Homo sapiens: one gene and its partners. The protein of the gene in region 1 purifies or fractionates together with the protein of each later gene. This does not show direct contact. Each region holds a gene or a part of one and is shown on either strand. Other genes may lie near its edges. The genes, in order: BPNT1, ABHD18, PDPR, TOP3A, PC, FDXR and MOCS1.

Region 1 (3,500 bases):
ATAATATTTGCATGTAAGATGAAAAATTGGTAGTTATAAAATAGGGGCAACCAGAAACTTGATATCTTTCAGAGCCAACATGGAAGTATCAGGCAACCATATGGATTTAGAGTTCAGTTTCTCATCCTATGGGTTTCCTTTGCACTCTAAAACCGTTATTTAAAATACTTTTAGGGACAGGCATGGTGGCTCACACCTGTAATCCCAGCACTCTGGGAGGCCGAGGTGGTTGGATTGCTTGAGTCTAGGAGTTCGAGACCAGACTCGGCAACATGGTGAAACTCTGTCTCAACAAAAAATACAAAAATTAGCCAGGTATGGTGGTGCACACTTATAGTCTCAGCTACTTGGGAGGTTGAGATGGGAGGATCACCTGAGCCCATGGAGGTTGAGGCTGCAACCAGCACCATCTCTTTTTTTTTTTTCTGAGACGGAGTCTCGCTCTGTCACCAGGCTGGAGTACAGGGCCGCGATCTTGGCTCACCACAACCTCCACCTCCTGGGTTCAGGCGATTCTCCTGCCTCAGCCTCCCAAGTAGCTAGGACTACAGGCGCGCACCACCATGCCCAGCTAATTTTTTTGTATTTTTAGTAGAGATGGGGTTTCACCATGTTGGCCAGAATGGTCTTGATCTCTTGACCTCGTGATCCGCCTACCTCAGCCTCCCAAAGTGCTGGGATTACAGGCTTGAGCCACCTTACCTGGCCCCAGCACCATCTCTTAAAGAGATTATTTTTTCCCCAGTTGAATGGCCCTGGCACACTTGTGAAAAATCAGCAGGCCATAGATGTATAGGTTTCACGCTGGCCATGGTGGCTCACGCCTATAATCCCAGCACTTTGGGAGGCTGAGGCGGGCAGATCACCTGAGGTCGAGAGTTCAAGACCAGCCTGACCAACATGGAGAATCCCCGTCTCTTCTAAAAATACAAAATTAGCTGGGCGTGGTGGCACATGCCTGTAATCCCAGTTACTCAGGAGGCTGAGGCAGGAGAATTGCTTGAACCTGGGAGGCGGAGGTTACAGTGAGCCGAGATTGCGCCATTGCACTCCAGTCTGGGTGACAAGAGCAAAACTTAGTCTCAAAAAGAAGAAAAAAGAAAAGAAATAGATGTATGGGTTTCATTATGGACTCTCAGTTATATTCTATTGGTCTATATGTCTATCCTTATGCCAGTACCACACTTTCTTGCTTTGCATTAAGTTTTGCAATTGGGAAGTGTAAGTTGTCCTACTTTGTTCCTACCTTGTGCAGTTTTACATGTACCTTACAGCCTGGACAGCAGAGTGAGACCCTGTCTCATTAAATAAATAAATAAATACTTTTAGGAAGAAAATCTAATTTGTTATTTAGTAGATATGTAGTAGATTTGCTAGTAAAACATTCATTGGTAATTGGGGATAGAAGGCTATGAAACAGGTTGCTACCTTATATTTTTAGAAGAACATAAATGTCATCCTGCTTGCTTTTTATAGTTGCTTAAGTTAAACCTGTGACTTCAGATAGCCACCATAATGTCTTTAGTTTTCCAATTTTTAATTATTTAAGGCATATTCATTGGAGACTTACTATGAATAAGACACTTTGCTCTGTGGTATGGAGGAAACAAAGAAAATGAGACATGGTGGGGCTGGGCATGGTGGCTCACGCCTGTAATCTCAGCACTTTAGGAGGCCGAGGCAGGCGGATCACGAGGTCAGGAGATCGAGACCAACCTCCGCCTCCCAGGTTCAAGCAATTCTCCTGCCTCAGCCTCCTGAGTAACTGGGATTACAGGCATGTGCCACCACGCCCAGCTAATTTTGTATTTTTAGAAGAGACGGGGATTCTCCATGTTGGTCAGGCTGGTCTTGAACTCTCGACCTCAGGTGATCTGCCCGCCTCAGCCTCCCAAAGTGCTGGGATTATAGGCGTGAGCCACCATGACCAGCGTGAAACCTATACATCTATGGCCTGCTGATTTTTCACAAGTGTGCCAGGGCCATTCAACTGGGGAAAAAATAATCTCTTTAAGAGATGGTGCTGGGGCCAGGTAAGGTGGCTCAAGCCTGTAATCCCAGCACTTTGGGAGGCTGAGGTAGGCGGATCACGAGGTCAAGAGATCAAGACCATTCTGGCCAACATGGTGAAACCCCATCTCTACTAAAAATACAAAAAAATTAGCTGGGCATGGTGGTGCGCGCCTGTAGTCCTAGCTACTTGGGAGGCTGAGGCAGGAGAATCGCCTGAATCCGCTAACACGGTGAAACCCTATCTCTACTAAAAATACAAAAAATTAGCTGGGTGTGGTGGCAGGCGCCTGTAGTCCCAGCTACTTGGGAGGCTGAGGCAGGAGAATGGCATGAACCCGGGAGGCAGAGGTTGCAGTGAGCCGAGATCGCGCCACTGCACTCCAGCCTGGGTGACAGAGTGAGACTCTGTCTCAAAAAAAGCAAAAAAGAAAAGAAAGTGAGACATGGTGTTCTCCATCAGAAACATGCCCTCACTCAGAAATTCACATAATGTTATCATTGTAGTGGTTAAAGGCAGCATATCCTGAATCATATTAAATGTCCTAAACAGAAGGAATTTTCCTTTTAAATCTGCTGCCAGTTTTATTATTCATTTTTCTTTGGATTGTATGGACTGTGTCCTTAAGATAATCAGACTTGTTTTTTTAAAATCAGCACTTATATATAAAAATGAGTAGCAACTGTGCTTGTTCAAAACATTTTTTTGCCACTTTACAAGTTTTTCCTGTACCATGATCTAGAGATCAGTATATTCATTGTGCTTAGTGTTCAAATGACAACAAACTTTTATCAGTTAAGCATTTCATGTTGAAAATCATTTTTTTGTATTTTTTTTTTTTGAGATGGAGTTTTGCTCTTGTCATCCAGGCTGGAGTGCAATGGCACGATCTCTGCTCACTGCTACCTCCGCCTCCTGAGTTCAAGTGATTCTCCTGCCTCAGCCTACTGAGTAGCTGGGATTACAGCCACCCACCACCACGCCCGGCTAATTTTTGTATTTTTAGTAGAGATGGGGTTTCACCACTTTGGCCGGGCTGGTCTCGAACTCCTGACTTCAGGTGATCCACCCGCCTCGGCCTCTCAAAGTGCGGGATTACAGGTGTGAGCCACCGTGCTTGGCCTGAAAATTCTTAAATCAGACTTTTTTCTTATTCAAATGGACTTTTTCCATGATTACAAAAGAATAAGCTTTTTGTACTATCTCAAAACAGATGACATTAATTTAAGCCATCCATAATACAATTTCAAACAGGAAAAAAAGAGTAATTTTAATCTATTTAAATCTATTTTTAGAATTTTGTGTGCTTGATTTAGATATTTTCCTTCTCTCTTTTTAATTTTAGCTCGTGGTCTGGGTTGATCCTCTGGATGGAACCAAGGAATATACCGAAGGTTGATATCTCTTTTGTATTCATATTTGACAGTAGTGGGACAAGGATATGATGTTAGTTGTAAATATTTGATATTTTGTATGTTGTATGGAAAGC
Region 2 (3,500 bases), on another chromosome or scaffold:
TGCAGTGAGCCGAGATCACGCCACTGCACTTCAGCCTGGGAGACAGAGCGAGACTCCGTCTCAAAAAAAAAAATTTTTTTATGCTAAAACTATAATTTTCTGGTATTCTGCATTATTGAAACATATTCCTCATGTTATTATTAATGATTAAGTAAATTGATTCACATAAATGGTTAGATCAGTGCCCTGTACATAAGTGTTAAAAAAAACTTCCAACTGGATAGCTATATAATAGAAGAATTGTATGTGATATGTTTGACATGTTTTAGCTCTTGTTAACGGAGGAAATAATTTTTCTATGTTGTTACTTATCTAGCCCAACTTATAAATGTCACCCTTTTTAGAAATAAACCAATTGTTCAAGTCTCTCATGTCTTGAAGGATATAGTAAACCTTTCTTTTTATAGTATGATCTTTTAAGAAGTATTCATGCAGCATTTGAGTCCCTATTGGTGAGTGAGCAGACTATCCAATACTCATTGGCCCTCTGGCACAACAAAATTAAAACAAATAAACAAAAATCCGTGACTACCTAGGGTTGCTAGGATTGCTTAAGAAGAGTCTAAAGTTCTGTTATACATGTGAACGCAGAGGACCCACATGCTTGCATTAGTAAATTAGTATCAAATTTCTTTCACTCTTTTGTGTATCTAAGTGGGAGTATAGCTAAGACGTATTAGGAAGAGTAGATTTATAATCAAAGTCAAATATAAAAACACAAAAGTGCTATTATGAAGGCTTCATTTGAGAGAGATAAATGTTAACTATTATCATGTGCCAGATGCTAGGGCAATTGCTCTGTTATTATCCCCTTTACACAGAATAAAGGGAACAAAAAAGATTAAGTAACTTGCTCAAGTGGAGTCACTACTAAGCTATTTGACCTCTTCCATTCCCCATCAGTCACTTCAAAACTTAACAGAGGTTAGATGACATTGGAATAGTAGAATTTTTAAAAATTCAGTCTTTTCACACACCAAACATAAAAATAAAAGAAGCCGCCAGGTGCGGTGGCTCACATCTGTAATCCCAGCACTTCAGGAGGCCAAGGCGGGTGGATCATGACATCAGGAGTTCGAGCCCAGCCTGGCCAATATGGTAAAACCCCGTCTCTACTAAAAATACAAAAATTAGCTGGGCGTGGTGGGCACGCACCTATAGTCCCAGCTACTCAGGAGGCTGAGGCAGGAGAACCGCTTGAACCTGGGAGGTGGAGGTTGCAGTGAGCTATCGCACCACTGCATTCCCCCTGGAGGCAGAGGTTGCAGTGAGCTGAGATCGCACCACTACATTCCAGCCTGGGTGACAGTGAGACTCTGTCTCAAAAAATGAATGAATGAATAAATAAAGCCATTCCTTTATGTGCTCTAATATTTTGTGTTATTTAGAGCTTATTGATAATACAGGTGAATAAGAGACTATTCACATGATTAAAAAGGGACATACATTACATGTACACAAGCCCGTATTGTAACTTTTGGCACCAGGAAGTAAACAAATTCAGATTCATTCCACAAGAGCAAGTGCCTGGAACTAACTCTGAGGAAAAAAATTATCCAGTGGGTGGGCCGGGCGTGGTGGCTCACGCCTGTAATCCCAGCACTTTGGGAGGCCGAGGCGGGTGGATCACGAGGCCAGGAGATCAAGACCATCCTGGCTAACATGGTGAAACCCTGTCTCTACTAAAAATAGAAAAAAATTAGCTGGGCGTGGTGGCGGGTGCCTGTAGTCCCAGCTACTGCAGAGGCTGAGGCAGGAGAATGGTGTGAACCCAGAGGTCAGAGCTTGCAGTGAGCCGAGATCGCACCACTGCACTCCAGCCTGGGTGACAGAGTGAGACTCTGTCTCAAAAAAAAAATTATCCAGTGGGCAATAATTTCAAAGCCCTCTTTACTTCTTCCCTATTGCTGTCATATCTGTCTTCAAAACAAAATCTCTTTATGTGTTTACACCAACATGCAAATATCCACCTCTAATTTTTTTCCCTTCTTATGGTTCATTATAATTCACAGGGAACAAGTACTTGAGCCAAAGAAAGACAAGCATGTTGTAAAACTATGACTTCCCAACATATTGGAAATAATAATCTATTAGCAGGCTATCAGTTTCAAAGATAGTCTTTTTTTTTTTTTTTTTTTTGTCTTTTTTGAGACAGAGTCTCCCTCTGTCACTCAGGCTGGAGTGCGGTGGCATGATCTTGGCTCACTGCAACCTCCACCTCCTGGGTTCACGGCATTCTCATGCCTCAGCCTCTGCAGTAGCTGGGACTACAGGCGCCCGCCACCACGCCCGGCTAATTTTTTTCTATTTTTAGTAGAGACGGGGTTTCACCATGTTAGCCAGGATGGTCTCGATCTCCTGACCTCGTGATCCGCCTGTCTCGGCCTCCCAAAGTTCTGGGATTACAGGCGTGAGCCACCGCACCCGGCTAAAGACAGTCTTAATAGCTGTGTTTGGATGTGAGGATATGGTTAGTTGAACAAGTGGGATACAAAATTAATATCTGATAGTTATTTAAACTGGGTGAAAATATAGACATGCATTTTCTTTTTTCTTTTTTTTTTTTTTTTTTGAGCTGGAGTCTTGCTTGTCACCTAGGCTGGAGTGCAGTGGCGCGATCTTGGCTCACTGCATCCTCCGCCTCCCAGGTTCAAGCAATTCTCCTGCCTCAGCCTCTCGAGTAGCTGGGATTACAGGCACCCACCACCACACCCGGCTAATGTTTGTATTCTTAGTAGAGATGGGGTTTCACCATGTTGGCCAGGCTGGTCTCGAACTCCTGACCTTGTGATCCGCCCTCCTTGGCCTTCCAAAGTGCTGGGATTACAGGCGTAAGCCACCGCGCCTGGCCTAGACATGCATTTTCTTAAAAGCCTGGAGGAAAGATATGAAAAGGTTAACAGTAGATGTGAGTGATGGGATTATGATGTTTTCCCCTTCCTATGTTTTGGATTTTCTGAATATTCTGCTATAAAAATGTATTATACAATAGGAAAAAAACAGCTTTAGAAAAAAATATGAGTGGGGCAGGGTGTCGCAGGACTGTAGTTCCAGATACTCAACAGGCTGAGGTGGGAAGATAGCTTGAGGCCAAGAGTTTGAGGCTGCAGCGTGCTATGATTGCACCTGAGAGTAACCACTGCACTCAAGCCTAGGCAACATAGTGAGATCTTGTCTCTAAAAAAAAAGAAAAAAGAAAAGAAAAAATATCTTATGGAAGATAAAATTTGTCTATTCCTTTTCTTTTTCTTTCTTTTTTTTTTGAAACAGAGTTTCGCTCTTGTTGCCCAGGTTGGAGTGCAATGGTGTGATCTCAGCTCACACAACCTCTGCCTCCCAGGTTCAAGCAATTCTCCTGCCTCAGCCTCCCGAGTAGCTGGGATTATAGGCATGTGCCACCACACCCGGCTAATTTTTTGTAATTTTAGTAGAGACGGGGTTTCTCCATGTTGATCAGGCTGGTCTCAAACTCCCGACTTCAGGTGATCCGCCTGCCTCGG
Region 3 (3,500 bases), on another chromosome or scaffold:
CCTCAGCCTCCGTAGTAGCTGGGATTACAGGCGTGTGCCACCACACTGGCTAATTTTGTATTTTTAATAGAGACAGGGTTTCTCCACATTGGTCAGGCTTGTTTCGAACTCCTGACCTCAAGTGATCCGTCTGCCTCGGCCTCCCAAAGTGCTGGGATTACAGGTGTGAGCCACCTGGCTCACTTTGAAACTTTTTTTTTTCTGTAGAGACGGGGTCTTACTATGTTGCCCAGGCTGGTCTCAAACTCCTGACTTCAAGCAATCTCCTGCCTCAGCCTCCCAAAGTTCTGGGATTACAGGCATCAGCCAATGTGTCTGGCTGGCTTCTATGTTAAATACCTCCTAGGGAATCTTATCATCTGGGGTAAAATCCTCATAGTAGTCTTTTGAGAGCAGTACACAGACCCATGTTCGTTTCTTCCAGAAAAGTTAAGGAAAGTGCCCAAAACTATTCAGCTGGTCTATGGCAATTTAGGATCTTTTGATTCTGTTTGTTCTCGATTTGTAGAATATTAATTTTCTCAAATCTCACACCTGAGCCCCAACACGTGCCCTCTGTCTATATAGGTACCTTGCCGAATGGATGGTACATGGTTATCCCTCAGAAAACGTTTGGGAATTGGACCTGAAACGTTTTGGAGCCCTCCAGAGCAGCCGCACCTTTCTGCGCCACCGGGTCATGGAAGTCATGCGTAAGTGAAGCTTTATCGCAGTTGCTCCTAGTTGCAGGTATCTTCTCGGTGGCCCGTGTTGTCATTCAGAAGGAGCAAAGTTTTCCTCAGTTCTTTAACAAGTGCTTTGAGTTGGGCATTTGATTTGACTGTTTCAGGCCTGAGTTAAGGGGCTTTATGCTCCTCATGATATATACGTAACATTTTCTTTAGTGCATCGGACCTTGTTTCATTCTGAGAACAAGAAAATAGAATAGGAGTTACAGTTGGTACATAGCAGCTTCATAAATATTCTAAGCAATGCCTTCTTCCCGGTCTGCCTTGAGAGACCGTATGTCGAAGTGCGTGCTTTCTGCAGTCTGCCTTGAGAGACCCTGTGTCGAAGTGAATGCTTTCTCACTCCCACTTAGTTTTTGAGAAAATGCTTTCTCACTCCCCACTTAGTTTTTTCTTTCCAAGTCAGAGAATTTGCCGAGTTATTCTCAGAGCTTCAGGCTTCCGTGAGTGACTTTCACCATTAATCCACCCTACAGCAGCAAGATTGGGAGCCACTTCCCATATAAATACAAAACATACATTCCTGCTCTCACTCCCGTGTTCTCGCCCTGCTTCAACTTTGAAGGATTGGCCACTTCATCTTAATTTGTTATTCTACCTTGATCTCTGATTTATTTTCTAGGAAGCCCTTAGAAAGCTTTTGTATCAGGAATTGAACCAAACCACGTGGGTTCAAGTTGTAATTTCATTTTCCTGTACTGAGGAGCTGTTCTCAGACTTTGCCAAATGGTATCTAAATATTTTGGGCATACTTATGCTCAGGACTAAGTTTCTGTGTTGGCTCTGACCACCATTCTTGGTTGCAAGTAAACTGTTAGTTTGGTAGTTGAACAACATTGTTGGTGAGGACTCTGGATGGCCTTTAATGCCTGAGTGCTCACTTTTGGCCTGGGAAGAGGATGTACATCCATGGAGATGAAGGACCTAACAGCAATATGTTTAACTGCTAAGGTTCTTTAATTTTAGCAAATATTTTGGTTAAAATGTTGAACTTGGCTGGGTGTGGTGGCTCATGCCTGTAATCCCAGCACTTTGGGACGTTGAGGGAGGTAGGTCACTTGAGGTCAGGAGTTTGAGACCAGCCTAGGCAACGTAGCGAAACCCTGTCTCTACTAAAACCAAAACCAAAAAATTAGCCATGCCTAGTGGCACACACCTGAAGTCCCAGCTACTTGGGAGGCTGAGGTAGGCGAATCACCTGAGCTGGGGAAGTTGAGGCTGCAGTGAGCCATGATGGTGCCACTGTGTACTCCAGCCTGGGCAGTGGGACTGAGACCCTGTCTCAAAAAAATAAAATACAAAATCAAAGTTTTTTGTTTTAAAGTTGAACTATTATAAGCCTAAATTTCCCTACCCATAGTTACTTTGGAACCTGTACAAATCATAATTGAGCTTGAGCTTCTGCTTGGTGATATGACACTTTTGGTAGCCAATTCTCATGAAATAGAAGTGGCAGGCACATAGAAAATGGGGAAGGCGCCAGGCGCAGTGGCTCAAGCCTGTAATCCCAGCATGTTGGGAGGCTGAGGCAGGCGGATCACTTGAGGTCAGGAGGTCTGGCCTGACCAACATGGCGAAACCCTGTCTCTACTAAAAATACAAAAATTTAGCCAGATGTGGTGGTACGTGCCTGTGATCCCAGCTACTTGGCAGGCTGAGGCAGGACAATCACTTGAACCCGGGAGATGGAGGTTGCAGTGAGCCAAGATCTCACCACTGCACTCTAGCCTGGGTGATAGAGAGGGATTCCATCTCAACAAAAAATAAAAAAAAAATAGAAAAGAAAATGGGGGAGGGGATGATAGAACCGAAAGTACTAGGAGATGGAGAGATTGTCACCATGCAGAGAACCCCACCTGGCTTCCTTCTCCTGTCTCCCAACCTCCCCAAGCCTTGATGTGCCTTTTGTTTGGGATGGTGTGAGATCAGGGACCACAGATCACACTCTTCTGGCTTTTTTTACTTATTGCTGTTGAAGATTAGACCTTAAGGGAAATGAATTTTTTTTTTTTCCGAGACAGTCTTGCTCTATTGCCCAGGCTGGAGTGCCGTGGCGTGATTTCGGCTCACTGCAACCTCTGCCTCCTGGGTTCAAACAATTCTCCTGCCTCAGCCTCCCGAGTAGCTGGGATTACAGGCGCCTGCCACCATGCCTGGCTAATTTATGTATTTTTAGTAGAGACAGGGTTTCACCACATTGGTCAGGCTGATCTTGAACTCCTGACCTCGTGATCCGCCCACCTCGACCTCTCAGTGCTGGGTTTACAGACGTGAGCCACCACACCCGGCCTAAGAGAAATGAATTCTGACCCTAGCTTTGTTGTGTGAATAATGTCATTGGTACAATACAATATAACTTCTCAGATTTCAGAGCCACCTAATCAAGCTGCAATATGTACCCTTTCACTTCAGAAGTGAGTTAATTATCAGGGAGGAAATGTCTGTAACAGGTCTGAGATCCTAACACAGGCACAATGAAGAATCGAATGCCATTTTTTCACATTTTGTTACCACCTGTGTCCCACTTAGTAACCTTCTTCTCTGCTATGAAGCTTGGTAAGGTTTAGGACCCTGACCTTTCTGCCATCATTTCTACCTACTAATGTGGAATGCTGAATGTGAATACAGGCCGAGTCATGCCGTGACACGTAGCTCCAGGGAGGGACGATAGCAGCTTGGCAGGATTGTCTTTTCCTTCTGGAGCATGCCTGATACACTGGGTAATTTTGAAAATTAGACTACATTAGCCTGGAAATTGGGCCGGGCAGAGTG
Region 4 (3,500 bases), on another chromosome or scaffold:
CGCCATTTCCTGGCTTGCTGCTCCCAGGATGCTCAGGGGCAGGAGACCACAGTGGAGATCGACATCGCTCAGGAACGCTTTGTGGCCCATGGCCTCATGATTCTGGCCCGAAACTATCTGGATGTGTATCCATATGATCACTGGAGTGACAAGGTAATAAAGAGTGGTCCCCAGTGAGAGGGAGGACAGTTGTGTTGTGAGCCCTGAGTTCTCTAGTGGAGCAGGATCATGTTCCTTGAAATGAGGTTATTTTTTGCCTGAGTGTGCTGATGGAATCATCTGACTGTTGCACCTGCCGCTCCCTGTAGATCCTCCCTGTCTATGAGCAAGGATCCCACTTTCAGCCCAGCACCGTGGAGATGGTGGACGGGGAGACCAGCCCACCCAAGCTGCTCACCGAGGCCGACCTCATTGCCCTCATGGAGAAGCATGGCATTGGTCAGTGGCTCCTCTGGGTAACTCGCATCTCTTGAGCTAAGGCTTACAGTGTACCAGGTACAGGTTTCCTCTAGTCTTCAAACCATTCTCTAATGCAGCTGCTATATCTTTATCCCATTTTATAGTTGAAATAAGGCTCAGAGAGGTTAAGAACTTACCTAAGTTCACAAAGTGTGTATTATTAAAACCTGGTCTGAATAACTCCACAGTCAGTGCTCTTAAACCATGCACTGTGCTGTCCACATAGTAACAGAGACTTTTCCCATGGCTTTGAGGGCCCAACTGGGAGCACCCATTGGCCACATGAGGATTTGTTGTTCTTTCGAATAAGAACAGCATGTAAGGAACCAACAATTAAAACTTGGGACAGTTATCATAAAATCTATCTTCATTTTGAAGTGTCAGATAGAGCCCTGAGCCTCCTTCCCATGTGGAGCATTGGGTGAGGGTGGCAGCTGTCTCTGCAGGTCTGAACCCACACTGCTCACTCAGGCTGCTCACGCTGGCCTCATGTATGTGCCAGGACCCTGCTGATAAGTCCCATGGCTCAAGCTTTGCAGGTAGGGCCTTGTAACTAATCTGCTGTCCCCTCCATTCGTTTTTGTCAAGGCTCTCAAGGGCTTTCTCTGGCAAACCTAGTCCAGGAATACCTGCAGCACAGTGGAGGGGAAGCAGAGCTCCCTGGGCATGTGTTACATAAGCAGCTGCGTCATCCACAAAGGGAGTTTCTTAGGCCTATGACTTGGGAAGCAGTGCTTCAACGTGAAGTCCTTGACCATCACTAGGACATCCAGAAACCCTGCAGGTTTAGGTAAAATTAGTAGAGGTTCACCCGTCATGATTTATTTGATAAAAATGTATGAAGGCTGGGTGTGGTGGCTCACACCTGTAATCCCAGCATTTTGGGAGGCCAAGATGGGTGAATCACTTGAGCCCAGGAATTCAAGACCAGCTTGGGCAACACGGTAAAACCCCATCTTGCTGGGCGCAGTGGCTCACGCCTGTAATCCCAACACTTCAGGAGGCTGAGCTGGGTGGATCACCTGAGGTAGGGAGTTTAAGACCACCAACCTGACCAACATGGTGAAACTCTGTCTCTACTAAAAATACAAAAATTAGCCAGGCATGGCGGTGGGCACCTGTAGCTGAGATTGTGCCATTGTACTCCAGCCTGGGCAACAACAGCAAAACTCTGTCTTAAAACAAACAAACAAACAACAACAACAACAACAAAACAGATCTGGCTGGGCACGGTGACTCATGCCTGTAATCTTAGTACTTTGGGAGGCCAAGGCGGGTGGATCACCTAAGGTCAGGAGTTCGAGACCAGCCTGGCCAACATGGCAAAACCCCATCACTACTAAAAAAATACAAAAATTAGCTAGGCGTGGTGGCACATGCCTGTAATCCCAGCTACTTGGGAGGCTGAGGCAGGAGAATTGCATGAACCCGGGAGGTGGAGGATGCAGTGAGCCAGGATCGCAGCACTGCACTCCAGCCTGGGTGACAGAGTGAGACTCCATCTCAAAAAAAACATTTCTACAAAAAATTAGGTGCATGCCTATAGGTAGGGAGGCTGAGGTGGGAGGATCACTTGAGCCCGGAAGGCAGAGACTGAGGTACAAAGTGTGAGGCCCACAAGAGTGAGAGCTTGGACTAAGCACCAGGGACACAAGGAGGAATAAGACCTCATTTTTTAAGTTCTCAATCTAACAGAAGAACCAAACCAACACATTGAATACAATGTAATAGTTCTGCAGGGAGTAGGCAGGGAAGAAAATGTGATGGGTGGACTGGCATTTGAGCTGGACCAAAACCTCATAGTAAGACTTCTGGATCAGCGAAGGGCAGCCCAGTGCAGGGTAGGCCTGAGGAAGGGCACAGGAGCAGGAAAGCAGAAGCCTGCTGTAGCTGGATTGGAGGGGGGTGGCCATAGAAGGTGAGCCTGGAAAGATGATCCAAGCCTGACTTTGCAGGGCCTTGGCTTGCCCAGTTGAAGGGCTTAGATGGTGGTACATGGTCAGCAGGGAGTCTTCCAGGATTTCTAAGTAAAGGAACCACATAGAGGTACACTTACAAAAAAATAATAATAATATTTTTAAAAGATTATTAACAGGCTGGGCATTGTGTCTCACACCTATAATCCCAGCACTTTGGGAGACCAAGGTAGGGGGTCAGGAGTTCAAGACCAGCCTGGACAACATGGTGAAACTCCATCTCTACTAAAAATACAAAAAATTGCTAGGTGTTATGGCTGACGCCTGTAATCCCAGCTACTTAGGAGGCTGAGGCAGGAGAATTGCTTGAACCCGGGAGGTGGAGGTTGCAGTGAGCCAAGATTGTGCCACTGCACTTCAGCCTTGGTGACAGAGAGAGACTCCATCTAAAAAAAAAAAAAAAAAAAATTTATATATATATATATATAATTATTAACAGCTTTATTTATATACCATACAGTTTATCTCCTTCAAATGTATAATGTACATTTTTTAGCATATTCACAAAGTTGTGCAGCTATCACCACAGTCAGTTTTTTTGTTTTTTTTGTTGTTTGTTTGAGATGGAGTTTTGCTCTTGTTGCTGCAGGCTGGAGTGGAGTGGCACAATCTCTGCTCACTGCAACTTCCGCCACCCAGGTTCAAGCGATTCTCCTGTCTCAGCCTCCCGAGTAGCTAGGCTTACAGGCACGCACCACCACACCCAGCTAATTTTTGTTATTTTTAGTAGAGACAGGGTTTCACCATGTTGGCCAGGTTGGCTGGTCTCAAACTCCTGACCTCATGATCCGCCCACCTAGGCCTCCCAAAGTGTTAGGATTACAGGTGTTAGCCACCATGCCCGGCCCCTAAAAAAATTTGTTTTGGAGAGATAGCATCTTACTCTGTCACCCAGGCTAGGTCACAGCCATGAACCCTGGGTTTCAAGGGATCCTTCCACCTCAGCTTCCCAAGTAGCTGGGACTACAGGCATGTGTTGCCATACCCAGCTAATTTTTTTGTTGGGTTTTTTGTTTGTTTGTTTTGTTTTGTTTGAGACAGAGTCTTACTCTGTCACCCAGGCTG
Region 5 (3,500 bases), on another chromosome or scaffold:
GTGGTGTGTGAGGAGCTGGGGAGGAAGAGGACAGGAGAGCAAGATGGCTTGGAAGCCCAGGGAACGAGCAGCAAGGCGGGAGCATGCCCGCTGGACTCAGCTGGGAGGAGTGACTTAGAGTGCCAGAGTGTGGTCTGTTGCGGTCAAGGCCCTCTTTCGAGAAGCGTGGACGAGGGGCAAGGGTGACTGCTGTGGGCCACGCTGCTGGAGAAAAAGGCTGAGCCCTGTTCTAGGCTGCGGGGAGGCAGGAAGGGTGGCCTTCAGCACATGCTTTGGTGTAAACAAGTATGGAGGGAGCAGGCCCAGCCCGTGACAGCTTAGGGGGCTCTGCTGGAGTGAGGAGAGGGCTGAGGGACGGGGAAGTGCCCCTCTGCAGGGAGGCCCAGAAGCTGTGCTGGCCCAGGGCAGCATCTTCAGCCTTTTCTCTTTCAGCCTTTTCTCCTCTGCCTTCCCTGTCTGTGCTGCATGGTGACCCCCTCCCACCCGCCTCTGTCCTGCAGACCAACATCGCCTTCCTGCAGAATGTGCTCAACAACCAGCAGTTCCTGGCAGGCACTGTGGACACCCAGTTCATCGACGAGAACCCAGAGCTGTTCCAGCTGCGGCCTGCACAGAACCGGGCCCAAAAGCTGTTGCACTACCTCGGTCTGGCCCGAGACTGCCCTGCCCTGCCCTCCCCTCCCCTCCGCTCTCCAATCTCTTGCTCCTACCTCCTTGCCACTCCCCATGACCAAAGAACTCCTTAGTGCCCCCTGCCCCTCACCCCTGCCCTCATTCTGGCCCTGCGTCCTCTTGTCCTGCACCCTGCCATTCACTGCTCTCCTTGCTTCTGATCTGAGAGACCCCACCTTTCCATCCACGTGGTCCTCAAGACGTCCCCACTGCCTGTACCCAGGAGGCCCTGGCTTTGGAGAGGACAGGGGCCAGCTGGAAGCCCGGGGATCCTGGAGGGATGTGTCCCTGTCCCTGAGCCCAGCCACTCTCACTGCTGCCCTCGACTCAGCCTCTGCCCAGCCCACCCTGACCCACTGCCCGCTTTCTCCCCAGGCCATGTCATGGTAAACGGTCCAACCACCCCGATTCCCGTCAAGGCCAGCCCCAGCCCCACGGACCCCGTTGTCCCTGCAGTGCCCATAGGTAGGTGAGATCCATTCTGTCAACTCATGGGGGAGACAGGAGGTTGCCACCTGCAGGATGGGCACCAATGCCCCTGTCTACCCTAGGCCCGCCCCCGGCTGGTTTCAGAGACATCCTGCTGCGAGAGGGGCCTGAGGGCTTTGCTCGAGCTGTGCGGAACCACCCGGGGCTGCTGCTGATGGACACGACCTTCAGGGACGCCCACCAGTCACTGCTGGCCACTCGTGTGCGCACCCACGATCTCAAAAAGATCGCCCCCTATGTTGCCCACAACTTCAGCAAGCTCTTCAGCATGGAGAACTGGGGAGGTAGGCTGGCATGCTGCGCAGCGCCTGGTAGGAATGGGCGCCCGCTCTGTGGCCAGTCCCACAGGCTTAGGCCACTGGGGACAAGCTAGAGACGCTGACACGAAGAACACCAAAGAGGAAGGACCGAAGAAGGCACAGCGCCCTCTCCGGCCAGGCCTGGTGCCGGCACGAGGTTGCAGAGCTGAGACCAGGTGCATCCTGGGAGGTCCAGGGTCAGGAGGAGACACCTGCCTGTTAATTATAGCACAGAGAGGTAGAGGAGAAGATGGGATTATAAAGGGGGCATAGAAGGGACACAAATGAGCCTGGTCTCCCCCTTAGAGATCAGACAAGGGAAAAATCTGTGGGGGTTGGAGCAGGGAACACAGGTATGGCGAAGATGAGCAGGACCTGGTATTGGGGCCAGAGGCTTGTGCTGCAGAGCTAGCTCCAAGGCCTGGTGGAGTTCCCCAGGCATGCAGAGCTGATCTGGGCCTCTCGGTTCCTGTGCAGGAGCCACGTTTGACGTCGCCATGCGCTTCCTGTATGAGTGCCCCTGGCGGCGGCTGCAGGAGCTCCGGGAGCTCATCCCCAACATCCCTTTCCAGATGCTGCTGCGGGGGGCCAATGCTGTGGGCTACACCAACTACCCAGACAACGTGGTCTTCAAGTGAGCCTGGGGTGGGGTGGGCAGACGCTACCTGGTGTGGCCCAGAGGGTACCGAGCCATGTCGTGATGGCCTCTGTTCTCCACGGTCAGCCTGACACCAAGTCTCTCTGTGGCCACACGCAGCAGGGGCTGCTGTTTGGAAATATCGAGAAGTGTAAAATTGGAGTTGCAGAACCAGACAGGCTTCTAAATCACTCCCTCACTCCTGGGGCAGTGGAAGGTCTGAGACTTGCCTGGGTCACTCGGTGCAGGGCTGGGATTGGAACCCAGGCCTCAAGACTCCTTGCTCAGTACCCTCTTCCACAGCCTGCCACTGGCCTAGCTGATCCTCCAGGGCCTGGTCCACACTTGTGTGGCCACCCCCCGCCTGTGGATGCCACACCCCCTGCCAGGCGAGACCCTCAGATCTCATTCCCCAGGGGCCATAGAGTGGGTCAGGAAGGAGCCAGGGAAGACTGTTCAGAGGGAGGTGGGGTGGGGCTCAGCCCTGGGCTCTCTCACCCTTGCAGGTTCTGTGAAGTGGCCAAAGAGAATGGCATGGATGTCTTCCGTGTGTTTGACTCCCTCAACTACTTGCCCAACATGCTGCTGGGCATGGAGGCGGCAGGAAGTGCCGGAGGCGTGGTGGAGGCTGCCATCTCATACACGGGCGACGTGGCCGACCCCAGCCGCACCAAGTACTCACTGCAGTACTACATGGGCTTGGCCGAAGAGCTGGTGCGAGCTGGCACCCACATCCTGTGCATCAAGGTGCCTGGGCCACTTGTCCGTCCCTCCCTCTCTGCCCCGGCCATGTCCCCGCCACCCACAGGCACACATCCTGCCCTCTCTACCATCTCTCTCTCTCTCTCTCCCACTTCCCCCAGGACATGGCCGGGCTGCTGAAGCCCACGGCCTGCACCATGCTGGTCAGCTCCCTCCGGGACCGCTTCCCCGACCTCCCACTGCACATCCACACCCACGACACGTCAGGGGCAGGCGTGGCAGCCATGCTGGCCTGTGCCCAGGCTGGAGCTGATGTGGTGGATGTGGCAGCTGATTCCATGTCTGGGATGACTTCACAGCCCAGCATGGGGGCCCTGGTGGCCTGTACCAGAGGGACTCCCCTGGACACAGGTAGGAAGAACAGCAGCCCGTGGCCACACCCCTCTCAAAGCCGCAGCCACCACCAGTCCCAGTAGTGTTGGACCTGCCTAGGATCCAGATGCCCTGCTCTGGCCTTGCCGCCTTCTGTCACCTGAGTCAGACATGGGACCTGAGCTAGCCCTGGGTCCTGGAAGAGTCACACATTTCTAAGGCCTCCTCTGACTCTGGCCTCCCTGCAGAGGTGCCCATGGAGCGCGTGTTTGACTACAGTGAGTACTGGGAGGGGGCTCGGGGACTGTACGCGGCCTTCGACTGCACGG
Region 6 (3,500 bases), on another chromosome or scaffold:
CTGCCCACCTCCACGTTGCCCCAGAAGGCACAGCGGCCAGAATGGGCCGTCTGGGTAAATGTGTTGATGACATTCTGCCAGGTCCCCCGGGAATGGGAGGGGTTAGAGGGTAAGGCAGCTCCAGGGACCAAGTCTGCACCACCCTCACCACTCTGTGTCCCCAGGAGGGAAGCTGGGTGGCATGGGCACAGACGGCATGAAGTCCTGTCATCCAGCCAGGGAGCCTCCCTGCCCTCCTCATCTTGACCAAAGTCTCCAAACCCCAGCCTCCAGGCCCAGAGACACCCACCTTCACCTCGGGGTGATCAGGCGCCACACCAAAGCGCACCAGGCCAAAGGGCACAGGCTGTTTCTCGTAGATGTCCACGTGGGCCTGGGGGTGCTGCTGGGGAACAGGGTGGCAGCTGGTGGGGCCGAGAGAGAGAGGCTGGGACGCCCCCAGGTCCTCCCCTTCCCCAGACAGAGCAGGAGAGTTCAGGACCCTGGGCTGAGAACACAAGGCTTCCACCCTCTGCAAGGAAAAAGAGCACTCACTCCTTGGGTGGCTCGCGCCTGTCAGCCCAGCACTTTGGGAGGCTGAGGCAGGTGGATAACCTGAGGTCAGGAGTTCGAGACCAGCCTGACCAACATGGTGAAACCCTGTCTCTACTAAAAATACAAAGATTAGCTGAGCGTGGTGGTAGGCACCTGCAATCCCAGCTACTTGGGAGGCTGAGGCAGGAGAACCGCTTGAACCCAGGAGGCAGAGGTTGCAGTGAGCGAAGATCGCGCCATTGCACTCCAGCCTGGGTGACAGAGCAAGACTCTGTCTCAAAAAAAAAAAAAAAAAAAAAAAAAAAGACGACGACGGCCGGCCCTCAGAGATGGGGAGAAATGTGGCCAGCTGACAAGGCCGTGGCTTCCCCCGACTGGAATTATATCAGGGCGGCTTCTTTATCTTCTCAGGTCAAGCACAACCCACAGCCCTGGCCTCCAACCCTTCGACACTTGGGACCCTCAGGTCCCAGCCAGTCTGAGGACCTGAGGGCCACCCTCTGAATTCACAGGTGCCTTAGCTCTAGTGCCCAGGACCATGCTCTGGGGAAAGGGGAGCAGCAGGACAGGGAGGGGGCACGGCTGGGAATTCACGGGAAAGAGAGGTGGAAATGGGCCTGCTCCCACTCTTAGAAAGACAGTCTCAGGCACTGGTTCTGCATGACCGCCTTCCCAGGGCACCTTGAGAGGCCGTGTGAAAGGCACAGGGTCGGGGGTCCAGCAGGCAAGTCTGGTATGGCTCTGCCACCAACCAGCCACATGATCCCAGCAAGTCCCAGGGCCTCCCCAAGTCTCAGTCTCCCCCTCTGCACACTAGGATGGATGACAGCTCTCTCTCATGGCTGCTGGAAAGCACCAGGAGGTCAGGATGGTGAGACTCTGGGCCACAGGCCGGTTAGCAGTAAAGCAGTCAGGGGTCCCACAGCTGACACGCCCAGCCCCCCATCCTATCTTAGGTCCCCGCTATGACACCTCCAGCTTCACTGGGACTCAAGGCAAAGAAGCCCCTGCCCATCAGTCTCCCTACCCCCAACAAAGGCTCCCACCCACCTCTTCGCCTTTGCCCAAATCCCCCCTTCCCCTCCACTCCCCTGCCTGCACCCAAGTCCACCCTCCCCCACCTCCTGCCTCTCTCCATCCCAGGCCAGCCACAGGGGGCTACCCAAACCACCTCCCTCAAGCCCCACGATGTTGTACCCACAAAGCGCTCTGGGCTTGGAGTCAAACAGGTAGCCTTGGATGCCAGTCCCAGCTCTAGCACTAGCTGGCTCTGTGCACTGGGGAAAGTTTCTTCTCTGTCCAAAAGAAGAGCCCTGTGGTGTCCTGCTCAAGGTTAAATGAGTAATCAGGCAGCCCGGGGTGCAACCTACTCTGAGTGTTCAATCAAGAAGAGAGCTATCATTACTATTCTGTTGTTGTATGTCACTGCCTTGCTCAAAAATCTTCGCTGGGGCCCAGTGCCACAGCATAAAGTTCAAACTGCTCGGCCTAGAGGTCAACACCTCACCCAACCAACCTCTCTGTCCTTATCTTCCATTCTTTCCTGCGACAGATCCTTCACTCTGGGTCACGATGTCCTCTCCAGGGCCACCTCCGGAACGCTAAGTCTGCCGGATGTTCTTACCCCTTATCTCTCGTGGCTGACCTCATCTTCCAGGTTTCCTCCTTCCTTCCTTCCCTCCCTCCTGTCCCTCTAGCTGCTCCCCGCTAACAAGGACATTCTCTGAGGTTCTTCCGATTGGCCCCCCTCCCTCCTCCCTGAGGATTTAACCCACTCCCTCCTGCGACCCCAAATTCCCCTGAACTTGCTGATGACTTTCTACTCTCTCTCTCCTGCCCAGACATCTCCCCAAGCTCCAAACCTGAGACCCTTGGATGTCCCACCCCAGACATCTCAAATCCATCCAGTTTCAAGCCAAGTCCCCTTGCCCCAAACCGCTCCCCACTTCTGCTCCTGTTCCCTCGACCCCATCCACTCAGAGCCCAAGCTGGAACCTGGGGCTCCTCCCTGACCCCCGACCTGATCCCATCAATCCCCCATCCTCCCAGTCCTCTTCCTCACTACAACCCCAGCAGCTCCCCACTGCTATCTGGCCACCAGCCCTGCCTGGACCTACGCTGCAGGCAGAGGGGGCATCCTGAAGGAAAACAGCAGCCCGAAAACTCTCCAGTGAAGCCAACCATCTACAGCTGTGGGCACAAGAATCCTTCGGGGTGTTTAACATTGCTGACTCTTGGGCCCAGCCACAGAGTTTGATTAGGTCCAAGTTAGGCCCAGGAATGTGCATTTTGATAAGATGCCCCGGGAGACTCTGATCAGGGAAGAGGAGGCAGCTGTGGACACCTCCCAGCGAAACCTGCCTCCAGAGCCTGGTCAATGGCTTCCAAGCCCCCCAGGATCTGGGTCCTACCTACCTCTCAGCCTCGGCTCTCACCTCCTCACGCCTTACTGCACACAGGCACCTTCCAGAACTTGCCCTTTCCCCAGAGAGCCATTCTCTTCCTCTTTGTTCACGCAGTTCTCTGTGCCTGGGACACTCCTGCTATTGTCCCCCAACCTGACATCTACTGTCCTTCAGACTGCAATTGGGACATCTCTCCCTCCAGACTGGGCATGGACCCCCTCCCCGCACCCCAGTCTCTGTGCTTATAGCCGTCAGAGCCCTAAAATACCTTGTAAATTATCCACCTGTCCCCTCCACATTCGAATGTCAGGTCCTCGAGCACAGGGACCACGTCTGTCCTGTTCACCCCCATGTTCCCAGTAAAGCCTGCGCCCAGAACATGTTACGTCCAGTAAATGATTACTGAATGGATTAACATGGATGGCCTCACATGGAGCTGCCTTCGCTCAGATCCCAGTGCCATCCCTGCTCCACGGTGGAAGCTTGGACAACCTCACTTGGCCCTAGCATCCTTACCTGTGAAGCAAGAGGCACGACACCTGCTTTGCAGGTTGTCATGAG
Region 7 (3,500 bases), on another chromosome or scaffold:
GTTTGGCTGTGTCCCCACCCAAATCTCTTCTTGAATTGTAGTTCCCATAATCCCCACGTGTCATGGGAGGGACCCAGTAGGAGGTAATTTAATAATGGGGGTGGTTACCCTCATGCTGTTCTCATGATAGTGAGTTTTGACGAGATCTGATGATTTTTATAAGGGGCTTTTCCTGTTTTGCTCAACATTTCTTGCTGCTGCCATGTGAAGAAGGACGTGTTTGCTTCCTCTTCTGCCATGATTGTAAGTTTCCTGAGGCCTCCCTAACCATGCTGAACTGTGAGTCAATGAAACCTCTTTTCTTTATAAATTACCCAGTCTCAGGTATTTCTTTATTAGCAGCATGAGAAGGAACTAATACAGCCCCATGGCTGGCTTAAGTGTCTGCACTGGTGCTTTATCCTTGAGGCAAATGCTTCTGCTGCCTTCCCGTGCCGACAGGGAAGGATGAGGCCAACCTGTCCAGCTCCTTCAAATATAACTCCCCTCTTAGACAACCTCCCTGACATGTAGTAGGACCCCTCTGCTCCTGTACATGTGACTACTAAGCTGCGTGCACACTAGTCACTCCCTGTTTTTACAGAACCTTCTCCTGGGTGCACTTTGAGCTGTGGTCTCTATCCGTCTGGTCGGTTCCATCTGCTTTCTCTCTTTCAGTACTAATTTACCTTTCTGGGCTATCTACGGCATTCTTTCTTACCTTCCAATGCTATTATGGATTTTTAAAATCCTTCCATTATTTCTAGGGATATTTGGTAGAATGGAGCTGTCAAATAGCACTTAATTCAAACACTTTTGTTTCCATTATACAGAGTATCAAGACCTGTGTAGTACTTGGTTGTTAAGAGCAGAGTCCTGAGTCAAGTACACATGGATTTAAATGCCAGCTCTTCTTACTGTGTGAGATTAAGCAATTTTCATAATCTTTCAGAGCACCTCTTTCCTTACCTACTAAATGAGATAATTGTTATTGTGAGGCTTCAATGAGCTAATGTATGCAAAGCCCTCAGCAGAGCACCTAGCACAGAGCACTCAATGCTTAATCTTTTGGTTGTTTTTGTCAGTTTTGATTCTTAGCTTTCTTTTTAAGTTAGGCCTGGTTAATATAGGTCTGCAGAGAGCCTCTTTTCCATCCATCTTGTCTGGACAAAGAGTTTTGCCTTCCAGCCCTTTTCCCGGCCTCACCAAGAACAAGCAAGCAGTCTGACCCCCTTTCTGTTGTCCTTACAGCCCAGCTCCAGCGGCTGGAAGGGCTGAGAACCATAGGTGTTACCACCAATGGCATCAACCTGGCCCGGCTACTGCCCCAGCTTCAGAAGGCTGGTCTCAGTGCCATCAACATCAGCCTGGACACCCTGGTGCCTGCCAAGTTTGAGTTCATTGTCCGCAGGAAAGGTGAGCGGATGTGGATGGGGTGGGTGTCCCTCCCAGGGCCTGCACATAGCTGGGGAGGGCATGGCCATTGCTGAGCCAGGGGCCTGGTCACTTCCTCTTGGTGTCTGGGCTATCAGTAAGTCAAAGCACTTATTTCTCACCCCTCATCTTTGCCAAATGTATGTCAGGGACTTTGGGGGTCAGACGCTAATGACCTAGGGTGACCAACCTCCCCACCACCCCAGCCCCAGTTTGCCCAGGACTTGAGGGGGTTTTAGAATGAAGGACTTGAAGTTTTAAAACCAAGACAGTCTGTGGCAAACTGGGCCGAGTTGGTCATTCTACGATGAGCTCTGAAGAAACACGGGACAGCCCAGGGTGGAAGTAGCCACCCTGGGATGCCAGGGTCTGGGTGTATGCTGCCAGGAGGGGGTCCCCCAGCAGGCCCCCATGGTTATCCCTGTGCCCACCTGGGTATAAGCCCCTCCTATGCACCTCCTACTACAGGCACAGCCATACCCTCCACTCACCTGCCTCAGGAGGCCCAAGGTAGACAGGTGGAGCCAGCCTCGAGCTCTGGGTCACAGGAGACCAGTGCCTGGCTTCCCTTTGGCATGGACCTCATGTTGGGGCAAAGGCTCTTCAGGTTGGGATACCCTTTGATATTTGGGAGGGGGTACATGACTGAGGACTCTGGAGGATCAGAGGGGTGGCAGGGAGACCCAGATCTCCTTCCTCTTCCTTGGAAACAGCTTCAAGATCAGCCCCACCACCTTCTTTCCTTCCTTTTCTTAAACGGGGTGTGATGCCTTGCTTAATACCCTCCATGTGCTGAGGAAGCACTCATGGTGTCTCTTTCCTCTATGGAGGCCTGCTCCAGGTGCTGTGGAGGGGACAGAAGACACATAAGACATTGCCCTGTCCTTACAGGCTGCTAAGGGCCAAAAGATGTCATTCCATGGGACAGCCTTTGCTTGTCTTGTGGTACTGATTAAAGAGTTACAGAGAGGAAGAAAGAACTCTTAGCAGGAGAGAACTAGGAGGGCTTCAAGGAGGATGCATGCATGCTGGCCTTGAGGAACTGGAGGGTTTCAATCAATGGCACATACTCTGAGGGGGAGCAGGAGTACAGAACCTGCAAGGGCTCTACGGTGGGAAAGTGGGAGGTGGATCTGTGGGCTGTACTGCCCGCAAACACGTTCTCCCTTTTTGTCTCTTATTTCCTGGCACATGGATTGGAGACATCAGATCTTCCCTCCCATTCATACTCTTTTGTCCACCACCTGCCTTTGGAGGGGAGTGTTTTACAGAAAAGAAAACTTATAGTTCTAGGTTATCCTAGCAGCATTATTTTTTTCAAAGCTATACATTTTTCCCTTTACCCTCTCACTGAGCAGTCTGAAAATGCTGCAAGGAAACCATGGAGGCCATCTCTAGGCACCCTGTCTCACAGGTGACCACCCAGGCTGTGCAGGCTGGGGGTGCTGGAGGGGGCCAGGATGCAGTAGGTGATCAAGTGATTGGATGCATGAGAGAACTGGGCAGTGAGAAGTCAGCCTGGGGTCACATTGACTGTGGTTAATGATTGTTGAGACAATAATTGCTTACCAGCCCTGGAACAGCACCTGTGCGTAGTAGGTGCTCAGAGAGTATGTGTTGAGTGAATAATTGATGGACTGTTGAGGAAAAAACACTGAAACGGGAGTGGAAAACCTGCATTCTGAAAGATGGAGCCATGGGGCTTTGAGCAGAGCATTGCCTCACTCTGGGTCTTGGTTTCCTCCCGTAGACTACAAGAGGGTTCAACTAGATCCAGGGTCAGCATGCTATGGCCCACAGGCCACATCTAGCCCCCTGCCTGTTTTCATGTAGCCTTTGAGCCAAGAATGCATTTTACAGATAGCATTCAAAATCAGTTAATGATAGGGAACATTAACTATGAACCCCATTTAAGCAAAATATTGTCCCTGCAAAAAGAATCGCATTATTGTATCCCATTTGTAGATCTGTTTTACAAGACACTGTAGTCAGTTATTACTATTACATTTTGAATTTAGCCAACACTTTGTGACATGTACTTACACGGATCCTCAATTTTGCCTCTTGGCTTGCAAAGCCTACGATAT

The links.
Region 2: the proteins of BPNT1 (region 1) and ABHD18 purify together in Homo sapiens (affinity purification with mass spectrometry; 2 studies listed by BioGRID and IntAct, with this or other methods). This does not show direct contact.
Region 3: the proteins of BPNT1 (region 1) and PDPR purify together in Homo sapiens (affinity purification with mass spectrometry; 2 studies listed by BioGRID and IntAct, with this or other methods). This does not show direct contact.
Region 4: the proteins of BPNT1 (region 1) and TOP3A purify together in Homo sapiens (affinity purification with mass spectrometry; 2 studies listed by BioGRID and IntAct, with this or other methods). This does not show direct contact.
Region 5: the proteins of BPNT1 (region 1) and PC purify together in Homo sapiens (affinity purification with mass spectrometry; 2 studies listed by BioGRID and IntAct, with this or other methods). This does not show direct contact.
Region 6: the proteins of BPNT1 (region 1) and FDXR purify together in Homo sapiens (affinity purification with mass spectrometry; 2 studies listed by BioGRID and IntAct, with this or other methods). This does not show direct contact.
Region 7: the proteins of BPNT1 (region 1) and MOCS1 purify together in Homo sapiens (affinity purification with mass spectrometry; 2 studies listed by BioGRID and IntAct, with this or other methods). This does not show direct contact.

The regions. Positions count from the first base shown.
Region 1 is NC_000001.11:220,069,289-220,072,788, reverse strand, and holds part of BPNT1 (3'(2'),5'-bisphosphate nucleotidase 1), read left to right. Parts: intron 1-3,356; coding exon 3,357-3,405; intron 3,406-3,500. UniProt on the Homo sapiens protein: Phosphatase that converts 3'(2')-phosphoadenosine 5'-phosphate (PAP) to AMP and inositol 1,4-bisphosphate (Ins(1,4)P2) to inositol 4-phosphate. Is also able to hydrolyze adenosine 3'-phosphate 5'-phosphosulfate (PAPS) to adenosine 5'-phosphosulfate (APS).
Region 2 is NC_000004.12:128,031,406-128,034,905, forward strand, and holds part of ABHD18 (protein ABHD18), read left to right. Parts: exon of another isoform or gene 1-371; intron 372-3,500.
Region 3 is NC_000016.10:70,138,332-70,141,831, forward strand, and holds part of PDPR (pyruvate dehydrogenase phosphatase regulatory subunit, mitochondrial isoform 1 precursor), read left to right. Parts: intron 1-567; coding exon 568-692; intron 693-3,500. UniProt on the Homo sapiens protein: Decreases the sensitivity of PDP1 to magnesium ions, and this inhibition is reversed by the polyamine spermine.
Region 4 is NC_000017.11:18,287,495-18,290,994, reverse strand, and holds part of TOP3A (DNA topoisomerase 3-alpha), read left to right. Parts: coding exon 1-153; intron 154-308; coding exon 309-438; coding exon of another isoform or gene 439-473; exon of another isoform or gene 474-495; intron 496-3,500. UniProt on the Homo sapiens protein: Releases the supercoiling and torsional tension of DNA introduced during the DNA replication and transcription by transiently cleaving and rejoining one strand of the DNA duplex.
Region 5 is NC_000011.10:66,850,384-66,853,883, reverse strand, and holds part of PC (pyruvate carboxylase, mitochondrial precursor), read left to right. Parts: intron 1-500; coding exon 501-645; intron 646-1,047; coding exon 1,048-1,137; intron 1,138-1,223; coding exon 1,224-1,445; intron 1,446-1,937; coding exon 1,938-2,094; intron 2,095-2,603; coding exon 2,604-2,844; intron 2,845-2,960; coding exon 2,961-3,210; intron 3,211-3,419; coding exon 3,420-3,500. UniProt on the Homo sapiens protein: Pyruvate carboxylase catalyzes a 2-step reaction, involving the ATP-dependent carboxylation of the covalently attached biotin in the first step and the transfer of the carboxyl group to pyruvate in the second.
Region 6 is NC_000017.11:74,866,495-74,869,994, forward strand, and holds part of FDXR (NADPH:adrenodoxin oxidoreductase, mitochondrial isoform 1 precursor), read right to left. Parts: intron 2,260-3,500; exon of another isoform or gene 2,072-2,259; coding exon of another isoform or gene 2,051-2,071; intron 512-2,050; coding exon of another isoform or gene 383-511; coding exon 290-382; intron 75-289; coding exon 1-74. UniProt on the Homo sapiens protein: Serves as the first electron transfer protein in all the mitochondrial P450 systems including cholesterol side chain cleavage in all steroidogenic tissues, steroid 11-beta hydroxylation in the adrenal cortex, 25-OH-vitamin D3-24 hydroxylation in the kidney, and sterol C-27 hydroxylation in the liver.
Region 7 is NC_000006.12:39,913,963-39,917,462, reverse strand, and holds part of MOCS1 (molybdenum cofactor biosynthesis protein 1), read left to right. Parts: intron 1-1,230; coding exon 1,231-1,395; intron 1,396-3,500. UniProt on the Homo sapiens protein: Isoform MOCS1A and isoform MOCS1B probably form a complex that catalyzes the conversion of 5'-GTP to cyclic pyranopterin monophosphate (cPMP).